2 separate regions of the Homo sapiens genome follow, and region 1 is linked to region 2. Evidence: fine-mapped expression QTL. A gene starts in region 2. The other region holds a variant in brackets. All regions are shown on one strand. Distances are from middle to middle. Region 1 holds the start of GTSF1 (gametocyte specific factor 1). Region 2 holds the start of NCKAP1L (NCK associated protein 1 like).

Region 1 (16,386 bases), 23 kb after region 2:
GATCACAAGCGTGCGTCACCACGCCTGGCTAATTTTTGTATTTTTAGTAGAGACGGGGTTTCACCATGTTAGTCAGGCTGGGCTCGAACTCCTGACCTTGTGATCCACCCACCTCAGCCTCCCAAAGGGCTGGGATTACAGGCGTGAGCCACCGTGCCCAGCCCATCAAATGTCTTTCTTTATCATATTTTACATATAGAGAATCTTCCCTTAAAAGGCCATACAGTCTTATTTGACGTGACCACAATGATTTTGTTTTTCCAAACAAGGATATTTTTGAGTATGAAAGGGCTCACTATCAATAATTATCCTGGCTGTAATCCCAGTACTTTGGGAGGCCAAGGAGGGTGGATCACCTGAGATCAGGAGTTAGAGACCAGCCTGGCCAACACGGCAAAACCCTGTCTCTACAAAAAATTAAGAAATTGGCCAGGTGTGGTGGTATGTGCCTGTAATCCCAGCTACTCGGGAGGCTGAGGCAGGAGAACTGCTTGAACCCGGGAGGCAGAGGTTGCAGTGAGCCAAGATCACACTACTGCACTCCAGCCTGGGTGACAGAGCAAGACTCCATCTTTAAAAAAGTAAAAATAAAAATAATGATACTGGGACAACCAGACTAATCAGGTTGGCCACCCTAGTCTTAAGAGAAAAAAACATCATTTATTAGGCAACTGTGTCATTCAAAATATGGGTGCCAGAGCTACTCAAATCTTTAAGAAATTCTGAGGCCTTCGAAAGAAAGCATAATAGAAGTTAAAACATCACTTTGTGGCTTCTAACATAACATTTGGTCAAAGCTTTGAGAAACACCAAATAAACTTATGGGAAAAAAAATAAAAGCACATGCATTTTTTTTTCAGTAGAGTTTAAAAGTAATTGCCTCAAAGCCTTCCTAGATTTCCCAAAGCCTAAACTATTCCCCCATGTTCCCATAACAGGAGTCTCATGTCTCCGAATAACCTTTCATTCCACTTTATTATTGTTAAGCTATAGGACACTTGAAGATAGGTATGATCTTGACTATGTAGTCATCCTGTACCTAAAAGCAAGATTGCTGAATGTGGAGAATCTATATCTTATCAATGGGATAAAAAAAGACTCAGTAGTCTGGGCTAAATATTTCTCTCTTTTTTGTCTTTTTTTCTTTACTTCTTGTGGAGAATACCACAAGGTCTCACTATGTTATCCAGGCAGGTTTCAAACTCCTGGGCACAAGTTATCCTCCCACCTCTGCTTCCCTAAGTGTTGGAATTACAGGCGTGAGCCACTGCCACCAAACCTGGGCTAAATATTTCTATCAGAATAAATCAACCTTTCAAAAACTTTGGTAACCAGGTTCTCTTCTCTAAAAAGTTCTATTAGCTAAGCATGGTAGCAGGTACCTATGGCCCCACCTACTCAGGAGGCTGAGGAAGGAGGATCACTTGAACCCAGGAGGTCAAGGCTGCAGTGAACTGTGTTAACGCCACTGCACTCCAGCAGCCTCAAGGACAGAGCAAGACCCTGTCTCAAAATAAAATAAAATAATGAGTTCTATTAAGGTAATTCAAGGCCAGGCACAGTGGCTCATGCCCATAATCGCAGCACTTTGGGAGGCCAAGGCATGAGTATTCCTTGAGCCCAGGAGTTCAAGACCAGCCTGGGCAACATGGCAAGACCCCATCTCTAAAAAAAAAATGTTAAATTAGCCAGGTATGGTGGCAAGTGCCTGTGGTCCCAGCTACACAAGAGACTGAGGTGGGAGGATTGATGGAGCTCAGAAGGTTGAGGCTGCAGTGAGCCGAGATTGTGCCACTGCTGGGCAACACAGTGCGACCCTGTCTCAAAAAAAAAAAATGGCAATTTCAGTTATATTTCTGGAATAGTAAAGAATTTCCAGCTTTAAAGTTTATCCCCTAAAATCAGGTTTTAAGGTTTAAACCCTTACACTCATAGTATGAACTACGAGGGAAAAAATTGCTAAGGCCTGTTACTCATGTCCTAGATATGCACCAAAATATGCACCAAAACATATCCCATTAGTTCCACATCTTTATCTATCCTGTGGTTGGTCCATACTTTACAGGCCTTTTTGCTCTGCCTTTCCAAGTAGCTGCAGTATAAAACAGGCTCAAAAAAACCTAAATATTTTAGTCTCTTTTTCCCCCATGCTCTTCACAAGATAGATGATATCATATAGTTGCTGCAGCACCTGAAAAAATACACCTGTTCTCAAGTCAAATAATCAAGTATCTACTATGTTACTACTTAATTAAGAACTGTAGTGTATTGGGGGAAATAGGGAGATAGATGTTGGTGAAAAGGTATAAATATTCAGTTTAAGATGAATAAGTTCTAGAGACCTAATGTACTGCATGGTAACTATAGTTAATAATAATGTATTACATACTTGAAATTTGCTAAGGGAATAGATCTTAAGTATTCTCACCACACACACAAAAAAAGATAACTGTGTCAGATAATAGATTTGTTAATTAGTTCAATTGTGGAAATCATTACACAAGGTATACTTGGATCAAAACACCATGTTGTACACCTTAAATATATACAATTTATTTGCCAATCGCCTCAATTAAAAAAAAAACTGTAGTGGCCATGGTCCATTATTGGGGAACAATGTTGGCAACTATAGTATAGGGCAATGGTTCTCAAACTTTATTGGATATTAAAATTATTTGGAGGGCTTATTAAAACACAGACTGTAGGGCACCTCAGCCCCCAGAGTTTCTGATTCAGTTGGTCTGTAATGGGGCCCAAAATGTGCATTTCCTCAAATCCCAGGTGATGCCGATGCTGCTGGTCTATGCACCACACTTTAAGAGCCACTGGTGTCACGGACAGTTTCAGTGCTGGGAGGATAGGAGGGTGGAGGAAGATTACAAGAAAATATAAGGATTTGGGGCTGCACGGTGGCTTCTGCCTTTAATGTCAGCACTTCAGGGGGGCCAAGGCAGGGGAATGCCTTGAGCTCAGGAGTTCGGGACCAGCCTGGGCAACAGGGCAAAACCCTGTGGAGAGAAGAAAAAAAGAAAGGGAAAGGGGAGGAAGGAAGGGAGGAAGGGAGGGAGGGAGGGAGGGAGGGAGGGAAAAGGAAGAAAAAAGAGAAGAAAAGAAGGAAGGAAGGAAGGAAAAATGTAAGGACTAATCCCAAGTAAAGGTTAAAAGAAGGCTTCACAGAGAAAATTAACCTTGGATTTAAACATTTTATATGCCTTAAAATAATAGATCCACAAAACAGCAGTGTTGGAATTTTAGAATTGTTCTACGGAAGACCAGTCCTTTACAGAACTTTTAGTAAGGTTTTTTTAGTATAATTCTGCCCTTCTACCATCTTTTTCTTTTTCAACATAATCCATAGGTTCACACCTCCTACCATCTTTTCAACAGTCTTTTAAGAAGTTACCAAAGTGATGCTTATGAACTTTGGCTTACAATTTACATCTTAGGTGCCAGCACTAGAAAGAGAGTAAGAGATATTTGTTGCTGAGTCCTGGGGAAAGAACTATATATGTAAAGGAAAAACATAAAGAATAGATTTGTCAGGTATACAGGTAACTATTACAGGCAATGTGGATTACAGAAATACGTAACATTTACATGTTAGAACATAGAATGGCTCTAGGACAAACAAAATATCACTACCAGTTTTTCTTCACTCATCCTGTATTTTGCTTTAGCTTCTAGAACTGAATGTTGGCTCTTCTTGGCAAGTCCTCATTAGCAACTCTTTTTTAAACATAAATTTATTTTCATTGGCTCTCACTACCTCTCCCTGCTACTTTTCCTGAACAATTGTAACCAACCCCATATTTTCACCCTCCCCTAAAGCAATATTTCCTAATCTATTCTCACTTATTCTCACCAAGAAGAATATCTGTTACCCCATAGAGCCCCTCTTCTTTTTTTTTTTTTTTTTTTTTTGACACGGAGTCTTGCTCTGTCACCCAGGCTGGAGTGCAGCTCTGCCTCCCGGGTTCAAGCGATTCTCCTGTTTCAGCCTCCTGAGAAGCTGGGACTACAGACAGACACCGCCATACCCGGCTAATTTTTTTTTCTTTTTTTTGTATTTTTAGTAGAGATGGGGTTTCACTATGTTGACCAGACTGGTCTCAAACTCCCGACCTCAGGTGATCTGCCCATCTCGGCCTCCTAAAGTGCTAGGATTACAGGCGTGAGCCACCACGCCCAGCCGAACCCTCATTTTGAAAGAATTTGCAACTGAATTTATTGAATAATTTTTCCATTTTTAATTATACACCCAACTGCCAAACAGAAATCATAATTAGATGAGAGAAAAATTAATAATTAGATGAGAGAACCAGGACTTGATTAATAAAACCTAAGCCAGAAACAAAAAAATATATTTTGGTCTTTTGACGGGCAAAAGTTTTAAGTTTTATTAGGGTTGTCTGAAAACAGAAAGTTTCTAAAGAACCTCAAGGACTACTGGAATGCCTTCAATCCTAAAATCTGAGAAAACTATCTTCCTAACAAAGGGTTTTTTCCAATAACTAAGAGAATAGATCTATTTATTCATTAGTTCAGATATTTTATTTTTACTATTATTAATTCTTTCGTTTTAAATTTTTCTTCTTTGAGACAGTCTTACTCTGTCGCCCAGTCTGGAGTACAATGAACTGCAAACTCAGCTCACTGCAGTCTTGACCTCCTGGGCTCAAGGAATCCTCCCACCTCAGCTTCCCGAGTAGCTGTGACTACAGGCACCCACCATCAGGCCTAGCTAATTTTTGTATTTAGAGAAACAGAGTCTCATCATCTTGCCAAGGCTGGTCTCAAACTACTGAGCTCAATCAATCCACCCGCCTCAGCCTCCCAAAGTGCTGA[G/C]ATTACAGGCATGTGCCACCGCACCCAGCCAACTATTATTAATTCTAAGAATATAATCTATAGGAGGCTGGGGGTGGTGGCTCACACCTGTAATCTCAGCAACTCTGGAGGCTGAGGTGGGAGAATCACTTGAGGCCAGCAGTTCGATACCAGCCTGGACAATATAGCGAGATCCCCACCCCCAATCTCTACAAAAAATGTATACACACACACACACACACACACACACACACACACACACACACACACAACATTTAGAGGTAAATGCTAGTATATACACAGATAGAACCAGCACGGATCAGATTCAGTTTAGGGTATTAATTCCCAATAGCTCCTAGAATGACCCTTGTATAAAATGCCTTGTCTCATTTTTTTTTTCCTTTTCAAATATGATCAACCTGGCTGGAAAACCAGTCTAAAAGAAAGCTAAGCAGGGACCTCAGACAAAGCAGAAAATTTATAGTTAGAAAGGAATGAACAAAATACTTAAGAATAGAAAGAACAGATGTGTGGTGCATTTTTATTTCAAAATCACCATTGAAAAACAGGTTTGATTTTTGCTTGTTTGAAAGTTGGTTGGCTTATTCACAGGTGCTAAATGAAACAGCATTATCAGTTGAGGATCCTGTCATTCTGACAAGGCATTACTACTGAATGCAGTGAAGCCTGACTTTGGATTCTGGTTTGGTACCCATTCCCCTATCCTCCCAAGCCCTTAGCTCTTTCTTCCTCAGAAATTTCAATCTGCAGGTATCTGAATAAAATGTATTTATGGGTCACAGTAGCACTGTCAACAATTTCACCAGATTACTGCAATGTAAAGCCTGAAAAAATATTTCATTTCAAATCACACTGGCCCCAACAATCTGCATTAATGATACTGTGATAAAATCAGAGGTTTAGGATTTCATGAAAATTGTTTTAAAATATTTCCTAACAATCTAAAACTGATTTGCCAAAACAACTTTTTCCAAAATGATTAGTGCTAAGCTTGCAATGAAGCTTTCCTTCTTAGCAATTATCTTTCGCAAACCACTTTAACAGTTTGCTCCTCCTTCAAATGAATCATCCAGGCCATGGGTGAAAGAATGGCTTTTTTGATTTCAAAACAATGCCTAGGTCAGTTGTTCTCAGCCCTGGCTACACATTAAATTCATCTGGGTAGATTTTTAAAAATAACTATGCCTGGCTCTTTCACATTAATTGGTGTGGGATGGGAAGTTGGCATGGTATGTCTTAAAAGCTCCCCTGATGATTCTAAGGTGTAGACAAGATTAAGAACCACTAGCCTACAATGGCTTGAGCCTGGCTTCCATCAACACTTGGTTCTTTTTAGTGTCTTAATCTGAACTGATGGCTGTGGAGCAAACTCTCTTCTAGTAGGAAAAAAAGGTCGGGGGGAGGGGGTGCGGAGGGAGTAACAACAATAAACGCTCACAAATTAATCATGTAAAACGAAAACATCCCTTGCCCGGCGCAGTGGATCACACCTGTAATCTCAGCACTTTGGGAGGCCGAGGCAGGCAGATCACCTGAGGTCAGGAGTTTGAGACCAGCCTGGCCAACATGGTGAAACCCCCGTCTCTACTTAAAAAAAAAAAAAAAAAAGCTGGGTGTGGTAGTGCCTGCCTGTAGTTCCAGCTTCTCAGGAGGCTGAGGCAGGAGAATCACTTGAACCCAGGAGGCGGAGGTTGCAGTGAGCCGAGATCATGCCACTGCTCTCCTGCATGGGCGACAGAGCGAGACTCCATCTCAAAAAAAAAAAAGAAGAAAAAGAAAATGCCCCACTGATCCTTTTTACTAAAGCTACATTCAGTTTTTGTCAGGGTAGTCCTCTCAAGTCCTATTTGGGCTCTACACCACTGAAATGCTGTAGAAATCCCAATATTTCACTGCCCAGACTAATCACCCAGACTGCCTCCTACATCTTGAACAGCACAGAATGTTTTGTCATATCTTTTACTTCTTGGTTTTGAAAAATATTACCACCAGATCTACTTGTAGTGTCAACACCTTCCTTTTTTTGTCTAACCTTCAAAGGCTACAAGTCCCTTTTCTCTATAATGCCTTCCCAGGTCATTTCAGGCCCCATTAATTTTTTTCCTTACAGGAATTTACAGTCTCTACCACTTTTTTTGGCATTTTTTGTACTGCTATTAAACCTTTCATCCACTTTGGGAGTCGTTTTTCTAAGCACTCTGGGGACAAGAACTGCAGCTTACACTTTTTTTCCCCAGAACAAAGCCTCACACTACGTTTGGTTTTCCCTTAACAAGTTGTAACCTTCCGGCCTTCTTGTCCTCTCCAACTCTTCATTGAGCTCTCTCCCCAACTCTAAAACTCGCTTTCATCAGGCAGCAACAACCATCATCCTACCAAGCATTCTCAGATAGTTAGTGCCTTTTGAATTTTGGGATTTTACAACACATTCTAAACAAGAACAGCCAGACACAAAATTCCTGTCCTTGGTGATTGTTTTGTGGCTGCACTGCGTATCTCCTTTATAATTCCTCTTCTCTTCCCTCAAAATCTAAATTACCTTTCTATCTAGACAACTTCCACAAACAAGGCTTCTTTCTAGGCAGCTCCCCACCTCTAACCAGTTCCATCAGTCCCATTCCCTCAGGCGCCATTTTTTTTTTTTTTTTTTTTTTTTTCCTGAGACGGAGTCTCACTCTGCCGCCCAGGCTGGAGTGCAGTGGTGCAATCTCGGCTCACTGCAGCCTCCGCCTCCCGGGTTCAAGCAATTCTCCTGCCTCAGCCTCCCAAGTAGCTGGGATTACAGGCGCCCGCCACCACACCCAGCTAATTTTTGTATTTTTAGTAGAGACGAGGTTTCACCATGTTGGCCAGGCTGGTCTTGAACTCCTGAGGTAATCGCAGGTGCCCATTTCTAAGTGCTCATCTGCCTTTTCTAAGATGGCCGCCACAAAACCCAGGGAAAGAAATGCGAGTTCTACCCTCTCAAGGCCACTGTTGTTCTGGGGGCCAGGGGAGGATGGCCCCAAAGATGGGGTGCCCAAGGAGGAGATCCTCGTGGGAAAGGGTCATCAGGGAGCTGACCCTAGGGGCTCACAGGTGAACTCCACAGCTGATCCACCCTGCCCCACACTCAGCCAGAACCGAGACTCCCAGTCACAGGAAGTGCCGGCCCCTCGCCCCACCTCCCAACGTTAGGCGCCGGAAGTGGCCGTTGCTGGGGCTTGCGTGGGAGGAAGGTGACTGTGAGGAAGGTGTGTGTCCACCGAGGTAAGGAAAGGCACCCCGGGGCGCCTCTAAGCAATTCCTATTTTGCGTACCGGGATACCTTCACCTTCTAATATCCTCATTTCGCTTTTCTGCTGGTAGCCTTCAGCCTTGTGGGCTCTCAATGCAGCTATTTTGGCTACCAACCTGTTTCGCTGCATTGCCCACTCGAGGGCCTCCTTGGCGCCTTTTCTATGTTTTTTTTAAGTTAACCACCTCCCCCACTTTCTCTTATTTAGTCTCATTGATTAAGTCTACTGTGATTTTGTTGTTGTTGTTGTTGTTTAAAGGAAGAAAAATGATTCTTTTACTAAGGCCGGAATTCTGTTAAGCGTTTAACCAGTAGCCGCCGACTACATCCATACCCTAAACTTGATTGCTTCCGGCGTAGCTTGTCTATTTCACCGTGATCTAGTAGTAGGGAAAAGGTAAAGAATCCCGTTAACAGTTTGATGCGGAAGATACTTAAAACAGACACGGCTAAGTGATGGTACTGTGAATTCCAGTGCCCCTAGTGTACTGTAATTCGTCCTTTTGTCCGGGAAGAATAGGTTGGCTTCCTACAAGCTGCTGAATCTGGTGCTCATCACTTAAAATCAAGAAACATACTTGGTTCTTCCTTCCAAAACTCTTATTTTTAATGAAAAAGTATGAAGTAACTATGTATAAGTGAAATATATACAAAAAGACGGTGGGGATTTCTTGATCCAAACATAAATATGAAAAATATTTTTAAGACAAATTCACTAATGATTGTCATTAACAAATGGGCTCAGTAGCAAAAAAACTAGAGTTCTAGCTGATCACTTGTATTTCCTATCATAGGTTCTAACGCTGCTTATGTCACAGAATGGGGGGAGGGGTGGTGAGGAGTGTAGAATTGTGTGAGGGGCCAAAGGAGAGCATGCTCTAGAGACAGACAATTTTCAGAAGTTTCGTATGGGGATGGTTTTATATAAATTCAGGTTTTTCCCACAATAATAAATGTATTTAGTCTCAGTGCTCAATAGAAGAGATTTCTAATAGAAAAGGATTCAAACTGTGAAACCATTTCTCTTTTAATGTTTCACATTCCTGTTACAGATTTGTTCTCTTGTGACTCTGTTATCCATAATATGGACAGTTCTTGAGTCCTAACATTGAGAGGTTTTCCCTTAGTGCATAGAGGGAATGAGTATTAATTGGAGAAGCTTAAAGTATTGCCACTTTAGCACTGAAGATTGGGATGAGAGGAGGTGAAACCTCACTAGAAAAAGGGACAATGTTAGTGTGGCCCTTCCTGATCATGTTTAAGAAAAGTCATGAAAATGGTGAACTAGTGTTTCCAAGCATATTGGAAGGGTTGAGTGTATACTGTCTGTCAAAGACTTCCAGCATTTCCAGGTCCTAGAGAGGAACAAGACTGGTAACCTGCCTATCTGTATTTTTAAGAACCCAGGAGGAAAGCTTTATAATAGAACATTATTTCTGTGTTTATGTATAAGGGGTTTTTTGTTTTTTTAAAGACAGGATCTCACTCCATTGTCCAGGCCAAGTGCAATGGCACGAACCTCATAGCTCCTGGACTTAAGTGATCTGCCTGCCTTTGCCTCCTGAGTAGCTGGGACTACAGGCATGAGCCCCCATGCCTGGCTAAGTTTGTTTTTTTGTTTGTTTGTTTGTTTGTTTTTGGGGGGGGGTTGTTTTGTTTTTTGTAGAGACGTAGTCTTGCTTTGTTGCCAGGCTAGTCTCAAACTCCTGGCTTCAAGTGATCCTCCTGCCTCAGCCTCCCAGAGTGCTAGGATTACAGGTGTGAGCGACCACGCCCAGCCCTCATGCATAAGTTTAAATGACAGTATTCTTGTGGTCTTGACTTGCCCCCTCTAATGTTAAATATTATATGGATATTTATATTATAATCACTATTATATTAATAGTGTCAAACCCTAATAGATGCTAAACAGTGACAGGCACTTAAGTAATAGCACTTAAGGTAGACATCTTATCACCCAAATACAGCTTAAATTTGAACTATAGGAGTCATATTTGGTTTTTCTTAACTATTTGGTAGGCCCTAGAATTTATTCCAAGAATGTGAATTAGGCCATGATGTTAAAATGATTCCAAGAAGAATGCTTTAAAGAGAAGAAAATATTGGGGGGAGTGGGGAGAGTAAAGGTTTCTTATATTGAACTTGGGTAGTTTCAAATCCAGAAGTGACTCCACTTCTTAGGGTTACCTTTTGGTACATTTTATTTCTGATTTCCTGAATCACACTTTTGTTTTTTCCAGCACTTGGATTCAGCTTCTTCATTTCCAACATGGAAGAAACTTACAGTATGTACTCCTTGTTGCTTTTAGAAAATAAGTTAAATCATTTACGTATAGTTTTATATCTGACAAGACTTTTAGTGTGCTGGGAAGAAGTCGGACTTCTCAACTGCTAAGGAGGAAAAGTCTTTATGGTATTGCCCAAATTTGAAATAAGATACTTGAAAATTAAGAAAAGAGGTATGAGAAGTCATAAAGCTTTGAAAAGGCCACAGTTAGGACACCTTTGTTAAACTATTAAATGAGGCAGGACTTCACCTTCTTGTATGTATGACACGGGGATAGTAACTTCTACTTTCTATTTTGAGGAGTAATATATAATAATGTTGATGTACATTAGTTTTTAGGATAAGAAATCTGGGAAGGATTCTTATTTCTCAAGTGATCCAGGAACCTTAGATGGCCCAAGAAATCAAAGCAGAGCCAGCACCTAGAATCATACAAGTGTAGAACCAAAAGGGACTTGAAAAATCATCTATTACAACAGAGACAACAGAACCTAGATTAATTATTTTGCCCAAGTTTACATAGTTAGGGACAGAGTCAGAACCAGAGTCTTCTATATTGTTTATACCTAGTACCCTACATGACACCACAGGCTCTGTTCTAGGCTCTGACTAAATTTGAGGAATATCTGAGTTTATGCCCGTGGATAAAACTTGTCAACAGTACCTACTTTTTCTTCCTACTTTGCTGTCTTGTTCAGAATCTCATTATAATTAAAAGTTCCAACTAAAGGATATTTCAGTCCCATTCTACCCTCTAGGAAGAGTCCAGTGGAGAGCTATATCTCCAAAATACAGAAACTACATAGAAATAATCTTTATTAAATATCTAGAACACAGTAGTTCTCAAACTTGTTAACATGCAGCAGAATCACCTGGAAAGCTTGTTGAACCAGATTGCTGGGTCCCACCTGCAGATTTTCTGATTCAAAAGGTCTGGTATCTGAGAATTTGCATTTCTAACAAGTTACCAGGGTGATGCTGATCTGAGGACCACACTTGAGAAAAGGGATCCCCTGCCCCTTAATTTTTCTTAAAGTTTTTGTTTTCTTTCTTTTGAGACAGAGTCTTGCTCTGTCACCCAGGCTGGAGTGCAGTGGCACAATCTCGGCTCATTGCAACTTCCACCCTCCCGGGTTCAAGCAATTCTTCTGCCTCAGCCTCCTGAGTAGCTGGGGTTATAGGCGTGTGCCACCATGCCCAGCTAATTTTTGTATTTTTAGTAGAGACCGGCCGGGTTTCACCGTGTTGGCCAGGCTGGTCTTGAACTCCTGACCTTGTGATCCACCTGCCTTGGCCTCCCAAAGTGCTGGGATTACAGGTGTGAGCCACCACACCTAGCCTTCTTAAAGTGTTTTTACTTAAGATGTGAAATTCCTGAGCCAGGCGTGGTGGCTCATGCGTGTAATCCCAGCTACTCAGGCAGCTGAGGCAGGAGGATCACTTGAGCCTAGGAGTTAGAGGTTACAGTGAGCTATGATCACACCACTGCACCCCAGGCTGGGTGACAGAGCAAGACCCTGTCTTTTTTTTTTTTTTTTTTTTTGAGAAGGAGTCTCGCTCTGTCACCCAGGATGGAGTGCAGTGGTATGATCTCAGCTCACTGCAACCTCTGCCTCCTGGGTTCAAGCGATTCTCCTGCCTCAGCTTCCTGAGTAGCTGGTACTACAGGTGCATGCCACAACGCCTGGCTAATTTTTATATTTTTAGTAGAGATGGGGTTTCGCCATGTTGGCCAGGCTGGTCTCGAACTCCTGGCCTCAAGTGATCCACCAACCTTGGCCTCTCAAAAGTGCTGGGATTACAAGCATAAGCCACTACGCCTGGCCGACCCTGTCTCTTAAAAAGAAAAAAGAAGGCTGGGTGCGGTGGTTCAGGCCCGTAATCCCAACACTTTGGGAGGCCAAGGCAGGTGGATCACAAGGTGAAAAGATCAAGACCATCCTGCCCAACATAGTGAAACCCCGTCTCTACTAAAAATACAAAAATTAGCTGGGCCTGGTGGCACTCACCTGTAGTCCCAGCTACTCGGGAGGCTGAGGCAGGAGAATTGCTTGGACCCAGGAGGTGGAGGTTGCAGTAAACCAAGATCACGCCACTGCACTCCAGCCTGGCGACAGACCGAGACTCCGTCTCAAAAAAATTAAAAGAAAAAAGAAGAAGAATGTGAAGTCCCTGTATGGTATATATACACTTATTCTTGGAAGCATACTACTGTCTATTAAATTAGAAAACAACATCTCCCCTTTCTGTCTCTTACTTCTTCGTTACTTTTTTCAGCCACATTTTTTTTTTCTTAAATATCACCTGGGAGTGTGTTGGAAATGGACAATCTCAGCGCTCATCCCAGACCTACTGAATCAGAATCAGCACTTTAACACAGTCCCTAAGTGATGTAACACCTGGAGAGTAAGTTAAAGTTTGAGAAACACTGCCTTAGACTATAGTTTCCCAAATTGACCTGGATTTCCAGCTTAATCTTACAGATTCCTGAACATCTCTGTCTTCTCTCTTTGGACTGTACCTCTTAGCTGATGATACTTTTGTCAGGCCTAGTTCCTTATTTCCATGAAGTTTTCTCCATTTCTCACCATGGGTTCTGGTCCCTACCCAAATCTGAGTAACAGCTGAGTCTGTGCTTTTAGAGGAAGCTTGTCAAATAGACCTACTTCGTTTTCGAAAGTAAATTATATTCCCAGGAAGCCAGACAAAAATTTGTAGAGCAGTTTGATAGTATTTATTACAACTTTTAATGCACAGACACTTCAATGCAATACTCTTAGGTGTTTATCCAAGAGAAATACTCATACATTGGCCGGGCACGGTGGCTTATGCCTGTAATCCCACCACTTTGGGAGGCTGAGGTGGGCAGATCACAGGAGGCTAGGAGTTTGAGACCAGCCTGACCAACATGGCAAAACCCTGCCTCTACTAAAAATACAAAAAATTAAACAGGTGTGCCTGTAATCCCAGCTACTTGCGGGGTGGAGGCACAAGAATCACTTGTACCCAGGAAGCAGAGGTTGCAATGAGCCAAGATCGCACCACTGCACTGTCCAGCCTGGGCAACAGAGCAAGACCCTGTCTCAAAAAAGAAAAGAAATACTCATACATGCAAAAAGAAGAATAAACTAGATTGTTAGTCACAGCATTGTATATAATAGTAAAAACTGGGCCAGGCGCGGTGGCTCACACCTGTAATCCTAGCACTTTGGGAGGCTGAGGCAGGTGGATCACCTGAGGTCGGGAGTTTGAGACCAGCCTGGCCAGTCTCTACTAAAAATACAAAAAAATTAGCCAGGCATGGTGGCGGGTGCCTGTAATCCCAGCTATTTGGGAGGCTGAGGCAGGAGAATCACTTGAACCCGGGAGGCAGAGGTTGCAGTGAGCCGAGATTCGCCATTGCACTCCAGCCTGAGCAACAAGAACGAAACTCCATCTCAAAAAAAAAAACAAATCTGGAAACAATGTAAATGTCCATTAATAAGAAAATCAAAAATTTGATACATCCATATGCAGCAGTGAAATATTTCTTATATGTAGTGACTTGGAAGGAACTCCAAGATACATTAAGTGAAAAGAAAAAAAAGCAAATTGCAAGACAGAAGATAAAGGAAATGGCCGAATGTGGTGGCTCACACCTGTAATCCCAGCACTTGGGGAGGCCGAGGCAGGTGGATCACCTGAGGTCAGGAGTTCAAGACCAACCTGACCAACATGATGAAACCCCGTCTCTACTAAAAATACAAAAATTAGCTGAGCTTGGTGGTGGATGCCTGTAATCCCAGCTACTCAAGAGTCTGAGGCAGGAGAACCACATGAACCCAGGCGGTGGAGGTTGCAGTGAGCCAAGATCGTGCAACTGCACTCCAGCCTGGATAACAGTGAGACTCCGTCTCAAAAAAAAAAAACAAAAAACAAAAAAAACACACAGGAAATTCTGTCACATGTTATAACACGGATAAACCTTGAGGACCTTAGGCTAAGTGAAATAGGCTAGTCACAAAAAGCAAAAGACTGTGATTTCACATATATGATGTATCTAGTCAGACTCACCAAAACAAAAAGTAATGGTGGTTGCCAGGAGCTGGGGGCAGTGGGGAATGGAGAGCTGATGGTTAATGGGTATAGAGTTTCAGTTTAGTAAAACAAAAAACTTTTGGAGACTAGTTGCACAACAATAAGGAATATATTAATGCTTAACACTACTGAACTGTATACTTAAAATTCATTAACATGGTAAATTTTATATGTGTTTTTAATCACAGTTAAAGATTTTTGTCCCAGCTACTCCGGGGGCTGAGGCACAAGAATCGCTCGAACTCGGGAGGTGAAGGTTGCAGTGGGCCGAGATCGCGCCACTTCACTCCAGCCTGGGCAACAGAATAAGACTCTGTCAAAAAAAAAAAAAAAAAAAGATTTTTAAATCAAAAAAATTTTTTTAATCTAGAAAGCCAGGTTAAAGTTGACCTAAAGTGCTGGAGACCAGGAAGTAAAGCATTACAATGAGAAGCTCTCATTATCAACTCTGACATATGCTACTATATGGGCAGTATAATATATATGAATCATAAGGTACCATCCAGTCTATCAGCTGCTGACATGGCCTAACATTTGCTAGTGATGGGAATGGATTAAATCAGGGGAAACTAACAAGAATTTCATCTGTAAATTCTCCCTGGTTGTCCTGAAGCTTCGGAAATATGAAACATTGCTGGTCAAGAAGAGCCTGGTTAGCATAATAAGCCTGCCTGTCCTTTAAGACTTTTCCTTCCTATTCATTCTGTCCTTCAAGTCACCTTTCTGGCTCATTTGCATCACGATCATGGTTGGCAATTTATTCCATGTTTACCACTCTTCCAGTGAAACTGTCTGTTTCAATTCCCCACTGGCTTCTGATTTTCCTAGCAGTCTCCTGGTTTATAAGCTTCTTATCAAATGTGAATTGTTTATCTTATTTCACTTTTATCATTGCCTTCAGGGGTGGCAAGAGCAATTTATTAGGTTGCCTCTTGTCTTCATAATATACCAGAATGTGCTTAACCATTTAATTTCCCTTCCTTAACCAGGCTTGTTAAAATTTGGGGCACAGCCTGGTCATCTTGTATAGCCTAAGGGTTGTTTTAAATAGCATTTTATAGGTTAGGGGCTTTCTTTCACACAGCAGTTCCATATGTCTGCAGTTGTCTTAACCTCAGAAGGTTCTGTTTTTGCACATTGTTCCTATTTTTTTAGCTGGCTAATGTAGTAGTCACTAGATTAAAGAATTCTCTGTTTTGTTCTCACATGTGTTCCAAAATATGAAAAGTAAAAACTACCTGTCTGATAACAGTATTGGTTTCATTTGAGAGGTAATTAGAGTAACCAAGATTAGGAACTACTTATAGGAGTAAGTTAAAGTAGACAGATGAAAAAGAAATCTATCCACTAATATTTTTCAAGCTTCCATAAAACATATAACTGATATAGGGCAGTGCTTACCAACTTTTTTCATGTCACAGGATACTAGTAATAGATGAAGATGCTATTACTAGTATCTTCATCTAGATACTAGTAATAGCAAGTATTACTATTACTTGCTATTACTACCCCCAACTTGCCTGTGGAAATGGGGGGTAGGGGATGACTTGAACTAGTTGTGGGCCCCCAAATCAGTGTATTAGCACACTAGAAATCCATTTCAACTGCAGCATACTGGTTGGGAGGCTCTGGATAGACTAGCTAGAGAATAGGAATAACCCTGAATTAGCACTTTTAGAAAAGGAAAAGAGGATGACATTTTATTTAACTTTTTGTTTTATAATAAGAGTAACCAGCAACAAAAACAATATGTTCAGTTCAATATGAAACTGAGACTTCACCCTGAGATTTCTGGTTCTGCTGAACTTACTAAGATTCAGAAATATTTTAAAAGTGTAGTCACCCTTTTTTTTTAATCCAAGTTTTCTTTAGACTATATTGTTCTATTATTACAGAGTCT
Region 2 (16,386 bases):
ATAGAGCTAGTAAGGAATGGTACTAGAACTTGAATCCAGAGCTTTTGATTTTCCCTGTATGCTACATGACCTCTGTCTAGGTCTATACTTCCTCATTTGCTAGGAATGCCTTTCTACAACTCCAGCCTACACCCAAATTCCAGTGGAATATAGCTGAAATTCACTTTCAGCCACTCACACAACCAATGTCACTACGCAGGTCTTATTCTCTACAGACAAGAATCAGAAGGGAACGGAAATAACATGTGTTGGTCTATTGCCTTACTATATGCTAAACACCAAGCTAGATGTTGTCCATGCATTATCTCATTTAATTCTCACAGACGCCTCACACAGTAAATCTTATTTCCTCATTTTATAGATAAGGAAACTGGAATTTAAAGAGTTTCTTATCTAAAGTCATACAGTTTGTAAGTGGTAAAGCTGAGATTTGAAACCAAGTCTGTCTAATTCAGGGCCTACTTAACAGTGCATCATACTTCAATGTCCCTATTTCCCCTCCTTTCCTAAACAAGCCGTACCAAACACCTTGGGCTCAGAACTTTATTTACCACTGCAGCAACCAGAAGGTGTTCTAAAATCTCCTTTGCCCTTCAACTTTTCTCAGTAAGAGACTTTTTTTATGTGCTTCCAGCATTCTTCCCACTGCCTCCACCAGCACCTACCCTCTTGCTAACCACTACTCTCAATTCCACAATGAATACTCTCTGACCTGACCCTCGTTCATACATTACAGTCCTTCTTGTCCTCACTTCTCTCTTCACTATGTGATCTACTGAATATCCTGGATTTGCTTCCTAGGGTAGGCACAGAACACATTATTCTTGTATCATCTGAAAAAATACTATAACACCACCACAAGCTTGGGTTGCTCAGAGGGCTAAAATTTGCATTATTTCTTGAATACATAAATAATACATGTTTATTGTAGAAAAAACTAGAAAATACCGACAAGTTTAATTTTAACTAGCTTTTTTAAACTATAATCCCACCGATCAGAAATTCCAATCTTCTTTATATGCATATTTACCTATGTAAATATACATTTTAGGGACATCTTACATCTTACATCTGTCTTAAACTGTCTTACTGCAATTTGCTTTTACATTAAACAACATATGATGAACATTTTCTATACCAATTAATATAAAAAATATATTATTGGCTGGGTGCAGTGACTCATGCCTGTAATCCCAGCACTTTGGGAGGCCGAGGCAGGTGGATCATTTGAGGTCAGGAGTTCGAGGCCAGCTTGGCCAACATGGTGAGATCCCCCATCTCTACTAAAAATACAAAAATTAACGAGGCGTGGTGGCACGTGCCTGTAATCCCAGCTACTCAGGAGGCTGAGGCAGGAGACTCGCTTTAACCCAAAGGCGGAGGCAGCAGTGAGCCGAGATCACGCCACTGTATTCCAGCCTGGGCAACACAGTAAGACTCCGCCTCAAAAAAAAAAAAAAGAAAAGAAAAAATATATATGTGTGTGTATATATATATATGTGTGTATACTTTAACAGCTACAGAATATTCATTTGTGGGCACATACTCTGAACTTTTAACCAAACCTTTATTTATTGGATATATCAATTATCACATTGTAACTATCATAAATAATGCAATGGAGTATATTCTTATACATATGTCTTTGCATTTGTTTCCTTTTTTTATTTCCCCATGAAACAATTCTGTTTCCTTATGACAAATTTCTAAATGTAAAATTACGACATTAATTTTTAAAATTTTAATAATACCTTATCAATTTTTCTTTCAAAAACATCATATTAATTTTTATTTTTTATGTTTATAAAAATAATACATGCTCATTATTTAAAATTCAAATAAAATATCATCCATGTAGTATTGCTCCCAAAAACTATCAACAATAAGACAATTTCAAATTGAAGGATTTCTCAAAAATAACTAGCCCAGACTCTTCAAAAATGTCAGTGTCATACAAGACAAAGGCTGGAAATCATTCTAGATTAAAGATGAAGGAGACATAACTAAATCCAATGTATTATCCTTGAGACAACTGGAGAAATGTGAATATGGGCTGTATATTAGTTTGGGTGGGGTTTTGTTTCTTTTTTTTTTTTTTTGAGACAAAGTCTCACTGTGTCACCCAGGCTGGAGTACAGTGGCCAGTGGCATAATCATGGCTAACTACAGCCTTGACTTCCCAGGTTCAAGTGATCCTCCTGCCTCAGCCTCCTAAGCAGCTGGGACTACAGGCACTCACTACCATGCCCAGCTAATTTTTTTTTTTTTTTTTTTTTTTTTGTGTAGATGGGGTTTCACCATGTTGCCCAGGCTGGTCTCAAACTCCTGGGCTCAAGCGATTCATCCCCGTCAGCCTCCCAAAGTGTTGGGATTACAGGCGTGAGCCACAGCACCCAGCCATAATGTTATATTTCCTGTGTATGATATATTTCCTGTGTATGTTATATTTCCTGTGTATGATTTCCTGAGTATGATAATTATATTAGGGTTGGGTAAGAAAATATTCTTGCTCTTAGCAAATGTATGCTTAAGTATTTGGGAAAGGAAATGTCATGATGTATGAGGCTAACTCAAATAGTTCATTAAAAAATAGAGAAGGATAAGAAAATGTGGCAAAATACTAACAATTAGGAGATCCAGGAGAAGAGTATAACAATATTCATTGTACTATACTAGAAATTTTACAGTAGGTTTGTATAAAATATTGTGGAAAAATACTTGAAATTTTTAAAGCTCAAATAATGCAAAGATATATAGTTTATACAGGTTGAGCTTCCCTAACCCGAAAATCCAAAATGCTCCAAAATCTGAAACCTGTTGAGCACCAACAAGACACTCAAAGGAAATGCTCATTGAAACATTTCAAATTTCAGACTTTCATATTAGGGATGCTCAACTGCCTAATGCAAATATTCTGAAATCTGCAAACATATGAAATTCAAAACACTCTGGTCTCAAGAATTTTCCATAAGGAATACTCAACCTGTATAGAGAACTCCTAAGTCTCAACACACACAAAAAATCCAATTCAAAAATGGTCAAAGAATGAAACAGACATTTCTTCAAAGAAGATATATAAATGGCCAATAAGCCTATGAAAAATGCTCATTATCACTAATCATTAGCAAAAATTCAAATAAAAACTTAGATGAGATAATACCTCACACCCACTGGGATGGCTACTGTCAAAAAAACGAAATAACAATTGTTGGCGAGGATGTGGAGGAATTATAGCCCTTATGCACCGTTGGTGAGAATGTAAAAGAGTACAGCCACTGTGGAAAACAGTATAGCAGTTCCTCAAAAAGTTAAAAATAGGCCGGCACAGTCCAGCCTTTGGGAGGCCGAGGTGGGTGGATAGCTTGAGCCCAGGAGTTTGAGACCACCCTGGCCAACATGGGGATACCCCATCTCTACAAAAAATATAAAAACTTAGCCAGGTGTGGTGGCATGTGCCTTTAGCCCCAGCTATTCAAGAGGCTGAGGTGGGAGGATCACCTGAGCCTAGGAGGTCGAGGCAGCAGTGAGCTGTGATTGCACCACTACACTCCAGCCTGGGCAACAGAGTGAGACCCTAACTCAAAAAAAAAAAAGTTAATAATAGAATTATCATATGATCCAGCATTTCCACTTTCATGTTTATAATCAAAAGAATTGAAAGTAGGGTTTTGAAGATATATTTGTACACCCACGTTCATAGCAGCATCATTTACAATAGCTAAAACTTGGAAGCAACCTAAGTGTCCATCAACATACGATCGGATAAGCAAAATGTAGTATAATCATACAATGGAATATTATTTAGCTTAAAAAGGAAATTCTACAATATGCTACAACAGGGATGAACCTTAAGGACATTAGGCTGATGAAATAAGCCAGCCACAAAAAGACAAATGCTTTATGATTCTACTTATATAAGGTACTTAGAATAGTCAAAATCACAAAAACAAAGTAGAATTGTGATGGCAAGGGGCTGGAAAGAAAGGGAAATGGGGAATTATTGCATAAAGGGTAGAGAGTTTCAGGTTTACAAGGTGAAAAGATGGTTGCATTATTAATATACTTAGTACCACTGAACTGTATACTTAAAAATGGTTAAGACAGTAAATTTTATGTTATGTGTATTTTACCATAATTTTTAAAATAGAAAAAACATGCATAGCCTACTAAATTGAAGCCAGTCATAATCAGTCCCCAAAGGTAGTTATTTTTAACAGTTTAATGTAAAATAGTCCAGATCTTTCCTAGATATTTACTAAATACATATACATACATACTCTTTTAAAATAGAAATGTGATGTATCATATACTATTTTGAAATTTGCTTTCATTTAACAATACAACTTAGATATCCTTCCATATTAGTACATCTCTCTCATTTTTTCAAGAACTTGTTTTAAGCAAATACATGAACATCTAAAGAAAGAATAGCCTCTGAAAGACCTTGCCTACATTGGAAACGGCTCAAGAGAGCTCACCCGAAATTCCATGACATCCACAAATGACTGGTAGTAGTTGGTGAGGAATCTAATTATCTCGGCTTTTTCACGATGTACTGGTCCTAAATGTTGCTGAGAGAAACACAAAACAAAACAATAAAAAAGTGCAAAATAAGACAATTGATCCAAATAACTCAAGAAGAACAGTGGTTATACCTAAAACATTCTTAAAGAGGGTTGAGGCCGGGCGCAGTGGCTCACACCTGTAATCCCAGCACTTTGGGAGGCCGAGGCAGGCGGATCACCTGAGGTCAGGGGTTCAAGACCAGCCTGGCCAACCTGGTGAAACCCCGTCTCTATTAAAAATACAAAAATTAGCTGGGCGTGGTGGCGGGCGCCTGTAATGCCAGCTACTCGAGAGGCTGAGTCAGAAGAATCACTTGAACCTGGGAAGCAGAGGTTGCAGTGAGCCAAGATTGTGCTACTGCACTCCAGCCTGGGTGACAGAGCAAGACTCCATCTCAAAAAAAAAAAAAAAGAAAAGAAAAGAAAAAGAAAGAGAGTTGAAATATACTGACAGAGGAAGTTAGAAACGCTTCAGTGCTCTGAAGGTCTTTAAACAAAGGAGATTGTCTATCTAGGTAGAATGGTTGCATGTGATCCTGACTAGATACAGAGGGCTAAATGAGAGGAAATTTTAAGCACCCTTTCAGATGAACAGATATACTATTTATATCAAAGTCAAAAGAAACAGAATTCAAAGATGCTACAAAGATGGGTGAAAAATCTAGGGTTAACATTTAATAAGGGAAAAGTAGAGATATCCCATTAGATGCAGAAATCTAAGACAAACAGCAAGGAAACAGTGAGTGGGAAACAGAAACAATAAAATACATGTACCCTGCTGGGTTGATAGAGCTGTCTTGTACAAAAACAATGTTTTCCCATGAATCTTGCAATGGAAAAGGGGTGATGATTCGCTCCAGCTTATGCTGGAAGAATCCCATCTTATCTCAAAATGCTCAAGACTTAAAGCTCTACAACAACCTGAAGCCCTGTGGTTGAGCCTTGGAAAACTATTAATAAAAAAAGACTACTCCATCCCCTGCCAAGTTTGAAGAGAGGCATCAAAAGAGGAGAATTTCAGCCATTCAAGCAGAGAATTATTCAGAGAAAGGAGAGAAGGACCAAGTTCTCACCGTGCTGTTTCGGACATCTATGTTGGGAAATTTCTTGTTGATATACTTGAGAGATGGTTCCATGGACTTTTCCAGTAAGAAAGGTGGCTTAGATTTGGGGTCTGAACAAGTCTGCAGAGAGAAACCATATATATTTCAACCCTTTCTCCTCCTCCTCAGAAACATACCTCTTCTTGCAACATTCATTCTCATAATCTGTCTTAGGAAAAGGCAACCTGGGAACTAATTTAAAAAGCATGAGAGGCTGGGCGCAGCGGCTCACACCTGTAATCCCAGCACTTCGGGAGGCCGAGGCAGGCAGATCACAAGGTCAGAAGTTCGAGACCAGCCTGGCCAACATGGTGAAACCCCGTCTCTACTAAAAATACAAAAATTAGCTGGGCATGGTGGTGCACAACTGTAGTCCCAGGTACTTGGGAGGCTGAGGCAGGAGAATCGCTTGAACCCGGGAGGCGGAGGTTGCAGTGAGCCAAGATCGTGCCACTGCACTCCAGCCTGGGCGACAGAGCGAGACTCCGAAAATAAATAAATAAATAAATAAATAAATAAATATAAAAATAAAAAGCATAAGAGTAGGTCAAGAAAAAATTCCAAGACATTAAGCCAAGTATCTAAGAGCGAAATAACAACCTAGGCATTTTGTCTTGATGGGTAGAGTTTAATGCCTGCTTGGCCCCAGCACAAAGAGGAAGCTGTTTCCCCGCCCCTCAACTGAAGCCGGAAGGAACAAGAAAAGCAGCTGCTCAGGAGTTAGACTTTGTACAAGATTCAGTGTCACAATTTTGTTCACTATGTAAGTATCTTATCCCAAAGGGCATTTACAGGATTCATGGTGACAGAGAAACCGTGTTCCTGGTGATTTGTTTTATTACAAAAAACACAAAAGCTCCCTCCCCCAAAGTCCCCTATTTTCTATGCCAGGAACTCCCCATAAACACCCCTGTCTTTATCTCTTTACTTCCTATGGTTTGCCCAGCCCCTAGCCCACCTCTTGTCACTAGCTTCTTTCAATTCCTCAGTTCCTATTCTAAACACACACACACACACACACACACACACACACACAACCACCACAGCATGAACTACCCCAGGAGCAGCTCAGAAGACACCTACCCTTTTTAATCTAAATACCTAATTATCTATTTTTTTTCCTTTTAGGGAAGCACTTCCACAGAAAAGTTTTTGCCAGAGACCCAGCTTCAGATCTCTTCAGAGTGTAGAGGATCAACAATAAATAATAAAACCCAGAAGGTTGGACCCCAGACCTTTATCCAAGTCACTTGGAATACCACTGTTGTTTCCCCATCCCCACCCTCACCCCCATCCCCAGAGGAAAGCAGATGCCATCGTTGGGGCAAGAATCATATCTAGAAAGGGGAAGCCTTGAAAAGAAGCCTCCACTTCTGCCTTCCTGAACTGGCTGGCCTGTATAATCTGAGTGATTATGTAGATTATAGTCAGTGGAAAAGCAGTGGAAAAAAAGGTGGGAGTCTAACTGCTGCACCTGCCGCCTCAGGGTTCCCTGCCCTATTATTGTTGGAATAATCAGTACTAGTCCCATTGTTCATGCTTACCTTCTTGATGTTATACATACGGATGAGAACCCCCTGACCGCGATCATTCAGGATAGTGAGCTTCTCTGCTAATTTATGCTGGTAAGCAGATGTCAAAGACATGATGGCCACTGAGAGAGGAGCACCAGACAGCAATGTCTGATCTCCCCAAACACTTTCAGCTTAGATGGTGACACCCTCTGGCGGAGGGACCCAGCCTGGTTGGTGCACTGGTCTTCTGTTGCCTCTGCAATTGGCTCATGGGTGAAATCAGTCATTATGGCTCACAGGCCCTCAGAGCCTTCTTGTGCTTCCTCTTGCACACTCAGCAGGGGAGACTTCCTCTTTCTGGCTGTGCAGCACTTTTGGTAAGGCTATGAAGTGGGTGGAGCTGAGGAGAAGGACAGGCTTTCAAGGCTCTTCACAGACTGCACCAACCTTTTTGGTCTTATGCCCCCATAAGTGTCCTAGACAAAGCTGGGCGTGGTGGCTCACACCTGTAATCCCAGCACTTTGGGAGGAAAAGGTGGGAAGATCCATTGAGCTCAGGAGTTCCAGACCAGCCTGGGCAACATAGCAAGACCCCATCTCTATAAAAAATAAAAATTAAAAGCTGTAAGCTAGATAAACAAGTATCTACCACCCCACCCCTGTACACCTCTATATTTTCCTTCTTTTATATCCAAGAATGCCTATGAACCTTTGGCCTCATCATGTTTTAGTACCCAGATCAAATCCCATCTTCTCCTAAAGACCCCATCAATGTCAAATATTATATTGTATTATATTTTATATTGTCAAATACATATATTCCTTGTTATATGTTTATAGTGTACGTTGTATCTCCCCCAACTACAGCATAAGCTCCTTAATGACAGGAATTGTACCTAATACTTTTTTTTCTTTTTTTTTTTTTTTTTGAAACAGAGTTCCACTCTTGTTGCCCAGGCTGGAGTGCAATGGCATGATCTCTGCTCACTACAACCTCCACCTCCTGGGCTCAAGCAATTCTCCAGCCTCAGCCTCTGGAGTAGCTGTGGTTACAGGTGCCCACCACCACGCCTTGCTAATTTTTGTATTTTTAGTAGACATGGGGTTTCACCGTGTTGGCCAGGCTGCTCTCGAACTCCTGACCTCAGGTGATTTACCCGCCACAGCCTCCCAAAGTACTGGAATTACAGGCATGAGCCACCACACCCGGCCTCTAATACTTTTTTATATTTCTCACAATGCTCTACTACAGTGCATTGTACTTCTACAGTACATAATAATTCTCAAAGTAGTTCTCAAGAAGTACATAGTAATTCTCAAAATGTGATCCAGCAGCATCAGCATCACCTGGAAACTTGTTAGAGATGCAAATTCTTAGGACCCGCCCCAGACCACTGAATCCAAAATTCTGGGGTGGGTCCAGGCACTCTGTGTTTTAACAAACCCTCCAGGTGATTCCAATGCACACTCAAGTTTGAGAACCAGTGCTCTAGTACCATGGTATTTATGGATGCTTGAGAAACAGATCAATCCCTGTCCTCTGAGATTAGCATTGGTAGGTAGGCGAGTCTGTTGTGGGGCCTAGAAGTCTGTACTTATATAAGCACTGTTGTAGGAGGTTTTGGTACAAATATTCCATTCTGAAAAACACTGATCTAGAACAATACCTCTTGGACACAGTAGTCACTCAATAAATATGCTGGTTTATTTGTTGAATTATTAAGACTAAATTAGGAAATAGGCCCCATGAAGAAGAACCAAATTAATCAAGATTAAAAAGAGGAAATTAGTAATCACCCTTAAATCTTAGAGACTTGAATGAATTTTAGCATTAAAATATTCTTGCCATTCCAATGAGGCCTTAACTCCGTAACTCAAGAAAATTTTCAACTCTATTTCAACTTTCTTTCAAGACACAAAGCAAAAGGTCCTAGGAAAAATTATAAATCAAAAAGAGTTCTCTTCATTTCCACCACCTTGCCAATTCCTTTTCTCAGGTTTTTAATCATTCCCATTTTCCGTATCCAGAGTTCCCATTGTCCCAATAAATTCTAGGGAGTGGGAGAAGAGAGACAAGGCTGATCAGCATTATTACTTAAGAAGTTGGGGCCAGGTGAAGTGGCTCATGCTTATAATCCCAGCACTTTGGGAGGCAAAGGTAGAAGGATTGCTTGAAGCCAGGAGTTCAAGACCAGCCTAGGCAACATTGTGAGACCTTCCCCCACCCCTCTACAGATAAAATAAAATAAATTAGCCTGGTGTGGTGGTACATGGCTGTAGGCCCAGCTCCTCAGGAGGCTGAGGTGGGATGGTCGCTTGAGCCCAGGAGTTCAACACCGCACTCCAGCCTGGTCGATAGAGCAAGACTATGTCTCTAAATAAATAAATAAATAAATAAATAAATAAATAAAGGCAAGAAAGAAAAAAAAACTTGAGTACTGTGTTCACTATTTGGGCATGGGTGATGGGTTCATTAGAAGCCCAAATCTCAGCATCACACAATATACCCATGTAACAAACCTGCATGTGTATCCCCTGAATCTAAATGTTTTTTAATTTTAAAAAGAAACTTAACATCCATGCTCCAAAGAGAATGTATTTTTAAAAGAAGCAGCAAGATGGCAACACTTAACGCATGAAATTTCAAATATCTCTAAGGTAGAATTTGCATTTTAGGAATATAGAATCTGCCTTCCATTTTATTTACTAGACTGGGTCCCTAGAAAGCTATGGGCTCGAGGTAATGTGATATTGGTCATGAAGATTTGAATTACCTGCTGTTATCAAAGAAACCCAGGTTTTACTAAAGCAATTTGTAGGATTTCTACTGGTCTTTTACCTTTACCAAGGAGAATATGGAGCAGACAGTAAGAGGCCAACATCCAGGAAGCTTAGCAGCAGCATAGCACCGGTCTTCGTGGGGTTAGTGTAATTCTAGCGGCTCTTTCTTGCATTCCTTTTTTTTTTTTTTTTTTTTTTCCTGAGACAAGCTCTCGCTCTGTTGCCCAGGCTTGAGTGCAGTAGTGCTATCATGGCTCACTGCAACCTTGACCTCCCAGGCTCAAGAGATCCTCTCACTTCAGCCTCCTGAGTAGCTGGGACTTCAGGTGCAGGCCACCACGTCTGGCTAATTTTTGTATTTTTTGTGAGCCACCTCACTTGAATTTCTTGTCTTTATCCTGAAAGTGTGGTTGAAGACTCTGCATCCCAAGCTAATCTTGTTTCCTGCTCCTTAATGGATACTCCCCAACTTGGTGGGGACCATCTTCTCAGCCTGCTGTGAATGTGCTATGTTCATGTCTGCCTCTCTGACTTCACTTACGCATGCTTTCCTTCTTGCTTACCCAAATCCTAGTCAATCTTCAGGATCTAGCTCAATAGTCCCAAGTCTAGGTTTTGCCGAACTCCCACAACACTTGGTCTATACCACATACTTTACATCTAAATCAGGTTCTGTCCTTAACTGCCCATTTCATATAATACTGCCTAGCCAGCTGAACCAAAAGATTGTTGAAACCTGGAAACACTTATTCCCCTGTACTTGGTATATGCGAAAAGCCTACCTGCTGTTATCAGACAGAATTTGGCTCAAGTGTAGTTGAGTACAGTGGGCTGAGCCTTATGATTTAGTGACCGAGAGCCCAGGTTCTGGAACCAGATATCTTGAGTTCACATCCTATTTATCCTGTCTGTAAAATAAAGATGATATTGATAATACTTCCTATTTCACGGAGCTATTGTGCATATTTTAAAAGTTATAGCCTAGTTACTTACTCTGTACATGTAAAGCATTTGAAGTACTATAAGCACTCAAGCTTACATGTATTACCTCAATTAATATTAATAATGCTAAACACTTACTAGCTTTGTAACTTTAGCTATCTATCACCATTGAGTTGTTTCCTAATCTATAAAATGGTGGTAATCCCTCATACGACTGTGGAACTGATGAAATAATATGGCATATGTAAACATTTGGTTCAAGACCTGCTACATTGGATTAGGAATGTCAACAGTAAAGTAAAATTTTGATCTTTGAGTGTGTAGTGAGCTTGTTATGTCACTTTCTGTGGATTCTATTTGACACTCATAAAGAAAAACTCTAGGTTTAAAAATGGAACTAGGCCAGACGCAGTGGCTCACATCTATAACCCCAGCACTTTGGGAGGCTGAGGCAGGCAGATGGCTTGAGCCCAGGAGTTCAAGACCAACCTGGGAAACATGGTGAATCTCCATCCCTACAAAAAATACAAAAATTAGCCGGGAGTGGTGGCACACACCTGTAGTCCCAGCTATTCAGGAGGCTGTGGCAGGAGGATTGTTTGAGCCCAGAAGGTTGAGGCTACAGTGAGCTGTGATTGCACCATTGCACTCCAGCCTGAGAGACAAAGCAAAACCCTGTCTCAAAAAAAATTTTCTGGGCTGAGTGTGGTGGCTCACACCTGTAATCCCAGCACTTTGGGAGGCCAAGGCAGGCAGATCACCTGAGGTCAGGAGTTTGAGACCAGCCTGGCCAAAATGGAGAAACCCCATCTCTACTAAAAATACAAAATTAGCCGGGCGTGGTGTCGGGCACCTGTAATCCCAGCTACTCAGGAGGCTGAGGCAGGAGAATCACTTGAACCCAGGAGATGGAGGTTGCAGTGAGCCGAGATCAAGCCATTGCCACTCCAGGCTGGGTGACAAGGGCAAGACTCCGTCTCAAAAAAAAAAAAAAATTTTGCCAGGCACGGTGGCTCACGCCTATAATCCCAGCACTTTGGGAGGCCAAGGTGGGCGGATTACCTGAGGTCAGGAGTTCAAGACCAGCTGGCTAACATGGAGAAACCCCATTTCTACTAAAAATACAAAAAAATAGCCAGGCTTGGTGGTGCACGCCTGTAATCCCAGCTACTCGGGAGGCTGAGGCAGGAGAATCGCTTGAACCCGGGAGGCAGAGGTTGCAGTGAGCCGAAATCATGCCATTGCACCCCAGCTTGGGCAACAAGAGCAAAACTCCATCTCAAAAAAATTAATGTAACTAACTATGCCAACTGGTAGTTTTTAGAGAAACTTATTGGAAAGATCATTCAGCAGTTTCTCCCATAAACTGGAGGAACCCTTCTAAAGGTATTTAATTACTCCCAAAGTATGGCCTGGTAGACCTAGAATCCCCTGTAGAAGTCTTTCTTTTTTTTTTTTTTTAATAGAGACAGGGTCTTGCTCTGATGCTCAGGATGGAGTACAACTGTGTGTCATGATAGCTCACTGCAGCTTTGAACTCCTGGGCTCAAGTGATCCTCCTGCCTCAGCCTCCCATGTAGCTTGGACTACAGGCACACGCCACCACACCAGGATAATTTTTTAAATTTTTTTATAGAGATGGGGGTCTTACTATGTTACCCAGGCTGGTCTTAAAATTCTGGCCTCAAGCAATCTGTCTGCCTCAGCCTCCCAAAGTGCTAGAATTATAGGTGTGAGCCACTGTGCCAGACCTGTGGAACTCTTTTAAAGCCACAATTAGCCAGAGCCCATTCTTGAAGATTCTGATCCAGTAGTTTTGGAGTGGGACCAAAGGACCTGTCACTTTAAAACTACTCAGTGATTCTCATGAACAATCAGGATTGAGAGCCAGTTCTCTAAGACTTAACTATGACATCAAAAATTTCCGAACCTCTGAGAAATCATAGAACATATGGTGGGAAAAGAGGAATTGAGTAGCTTGAATGGAAAGTTGATTCACATCACCAGACTAAAAGGTACTGTGCTTTCCCTCTCCTCAAACTTCAGCTATTTGTCTTATTTTTGTCTTACCAAAGGATCGTCTTCGCCTTCAAGTCACACTTGCCTTCAGATTCTTGACAGACACTCCTTCAAGAATAAGGTAGGTCTCAAGATCCTTTAGGCTAGGTTTAAGTGTCAAGGTGGCATCAAGGTTGGGAATGCTTTGGCCATGTCTAACATATATCAAAGGAAATGGTCTTAGCCTCCATTCAGCTATCCATAATCAGGTGAATAACCCAGCGTCACCAATTCTCGCCACCTATTCTAAAGCAGTCTTCATTTATTAAGACCAGGCTTATCAGTCTGGTCAAACTTCATACTTTTCTAGGCTGCTGGCCAAAATGAGGGTTTGGGGTTGTCTGAAGACTACATTTGGGTTATTGAAGATCTTTTTCCATTATCTTTAAAAATCTAAAGATAACAGTATACAACATTGAATTATGCTGCAGCCTTTATTTTCCAGAGAGCCAATTCACTTTATAATAAGGGTTCATGGCTCTAATATAATCATTAATATGCAGTGAAAGCTTTAAACAACTACCCTGACTTGTATTCCTGAAAGGTACCTGAGTCTAAATCCCTGGATTTAGTCACCAAAATGCCCTCAGGAAAATCTGACATTTAATAGTCTAGCTCTGTGCCCTTTATCTATGCCCTAGGCATGATGCAAAGCAGAATTGAAATGGACTATTCTAAGGCACTTTTCTATCCCTACTGCTTATTCCAGTCTGCCTTGATCTTATTTTTCCTCCATCAAACTATACTGTCCATGCTTTGCAGAAATCTCGGTGTAGCTGTTGCCTGGAAACTTGAGAGTCCTTAATATGAACGTCTGCTAGGATAGCTAAAGACAGCTAGCCATGGAAGAAAGTAGGCCTTATATTGGCAGTAAAATGTAGCAGATCTGAGATGGTATATTCTTGAATCACTTCTAGGAGTCTTCATATGTTAATACCTACAACTTTAGAAATTTGAGACTGACATTCTCAGGTAACTATAAAGTAGCCCAAGATTGGCATGTTGGCATGTACCTGTAGTCCCAGCCACTCAGGAGGCTGAGGTAGAAGGATTGCTTGAGCCCAGAAGTTTGAGGCTGTCATGTGCTATGATCACACCTGTGAAGAGCCACTGCACTCCAGCCTCGGCAACATCAAGGCCCCATCTCTAAAAAATAATTATTATAATTATAAAGTAGCCTGAACTTAAGCATTGTACTGTTCATACTTCAGATTCCTTTTCTCCAACAGTGGCTATGCTGACCTATCTGACAATTAGCATCTTTCCCTGGCAAAGAGCTTAATTTAGGTAAGTTGGAAAAGGGATGGAGGGACCAATGCTGAATAGTAAAGGAACCAGCTGTCCCAGCCTTTCTTTCTCCAGCACTCAAGCTTACAGTATGAAATTTCACTGGCTGGGCGCTGTGGCTCATGCCTGTAATCCCAACACTTTGGGAGGCCAAGGCAGGCAGATCACCTGAGGTCGGGAGTTCAAGACCAGCGTGACTAATATGGAGAAACTCCGTCTCTAATAAAAATTTAAAATTAGCCAGGCTTGGCACATGCCTGTAATCCCAGCTACTCGGGAGGCTGAGGTAGGAGAATAGCTTCAACCCGGGAGGCAGAGGTTGTGGTGAGCCGAGATCACGCCATTGCACTCCAGCCTGGCCAACAAGAGTGAAACTGTCTTAAAAAAAAAAATTCATCTTACTCCAGACTGAGTTTTCCAAGGACCTTTGCCTGTTTAATACTTTATTTGAGAGACAAGCACTCTATCTAACACAACTTATAAGACTAAAAATATATACAAACGTTAATTTTTTGCATGGAAGCAGTGAATTTCCCCTACTGTCTAACTGGCTAGGCTATTGCTTTGGTTACTCGAAACTTTCATAGGTAAGACTTGAGATACTCCTATCTTTCATATTACTTTTGTTTTGACAATATAAAATAGGTCTATGCCAAGACTACCTGATCTTAAATGTCATTCTTTTTATTTGACAACCTGTGGTTCCTACCATTTAGTCCTCATGGAGCCAGAAGCCTTAGAAATGTGTCCTTATGACCCAAACCACAGGAGGCCAGCCAGCAGATTACAGTACCACCTGTCATGCAGAAGAGTAAGTTTTCCTGATAAGAACTGTAAGCCACTAGAGGGAGAAAATAACCTCAGAAATAAAAAGTTAACGTTTTTAAAAAAAAAAATTAGGCTGTGTGCAGTGGGTCACACTGTAATCCAAGCACCTTGGAAGGCCAAGGTGGGAGGATTGCTTGAGACCAGGAGTTTAAGACCAGCCTGGACAACATGGCAAGACCTCATCTCTAAAAATAAAAAATAAAAATAGGCCAGGTGCTGTGGCTCATGCCTGTAATTCCAGCACTTTGGGAGGCCGAGGTGGGCGGATCACGAGGTCAGGAGATCGAGACCATCCTGGCTAACATGGTGAAACCTTGTCTCTACTAAAAAAAAAAAAAATACAAAAAATTACCCGGGCGTGGTGGCGGACGCCTGTAGTCCCAGCTGCTGGGGAGGCTGAGGCAGGAGAATGGCGTGAACCCGGGAGGCAGAGCTTGCAGTGAGCCGAGATTGCGCCACTGCTCTCCAGCCTGGGTGACAGAGCGAGACTCCATCTCAAATAAATAAATAAATAAATAAATAAATAAATAAATAAATAAATAAATAAATAAAAATGAAAATAAACAAGCTTCTGACCATATGTAGCACCTGGCAGTTCTTAATGTTGGAACATGGTATCTGTCTTCAGCATTTCCAGAAAGGGGTGGAGGATGGAATACAGGGAAAACCTAGAACTTTTTCCTTCTAGAAAAATCAAAGATTCTCTCCCTCTCCCTCTCCCTCTCCCTCTCCCTCTCCCCACGGTCTCCCTCTCCCTCTCCCTCTCCCCACGGTCTCCCTCTCCCTCTCTTTCCACGGTCTCCCTCTGATGCCGAGCAGAAGCTGGACTGTACTGCTGCCATCTCGGCTCACTGCAACCTCCCTGCCTGATTCTCCTGCCTCAGCCTGCCGAGTGCCTGCAATTGCGGGCGCGCGCCGCCACGCCTGACTGGTTTTCGTATTTTTTTGGTGGAGACGGGGTTTCGCTGTGTTGGCCGGGCTGGTCTCCAGCTCCTAACCGCGAGTGATCCGCCAGCCTCGGCCTCTCGAGGTGCCGGGATTGCAGACCGAGTCTCGTTCACTCAGTGCTCAATGGTGCCCAGGCTGGAGTGCAGTGGCGTGATCTCGGCTAGCTACAACCTCCACCTCCCAGCCGCCTGCCTTGGCCTCCCAAAGTGCTGAGATTGCAGCCTCTGCCGGGCCGCCACCCCGTCTGGGAAGTGAGGAGCGTCTCTGCCTGGCCGCCCATCGTCTGGGATGTGAGGAGCCCCTCTGCCTGGCTGCCCAGTCTGGAAAGTGAGGAGCCTCTCTGCCCGGCCGCCATCCCAT

Evidence for each region. PIP is the estimated chance that this variant, and not a neighbour inherited with it, causes the effect. A credible set is the group of variants that fine-mapping cannot tell apart.
Region 1: its variant is the best candidate, but not a certain one, in a credible set for the expression of NCKAP1L in whole blood (INTERVAL, PIP 0.70).

Annotation. Positions count from the first base shown.
Region 1 is chr12:54,465,254-54,481,639 of GRCh38, reverse strand. It overlaps GTSF1 (gametocyte specific factor 1), which reads left to right and starts at 8,038. Exons shown (of 9, transcript NM_144594.3): 1 at 8,038-8,094; 2 at 10,363-10,407. The coding sequence starts at 10,392. GPR84-AS1 (GPR84, ZNF385A, ITGA5 and GTSF1 antisense RNA 1) reads right to left here. Exons shown (of 4, transcript NR_120487.1): 4 at 14,610-14,799. RefSeq lists enhancers at 7,710-7,769, 7,435-7,961. The variant G/C (reference allele first, on the strand shown) is at 4,846.
Region 2 is chr12:54,488,718-54,505,103 of GRCh38, reverse strand. It overlaps NCKAP1L (NCK associated protein 1 like), which reads right to left and starts at 7,352. Exons shown (of 31, transcript NM_005337.5): 1 at 7,213-7,352; 2 at 5,639-5,749; 3 at 4,479-4,571. The coding sequence starts at 7,314. RefSeq lists enhancers at 7,161-7,220, 7,331-7,390.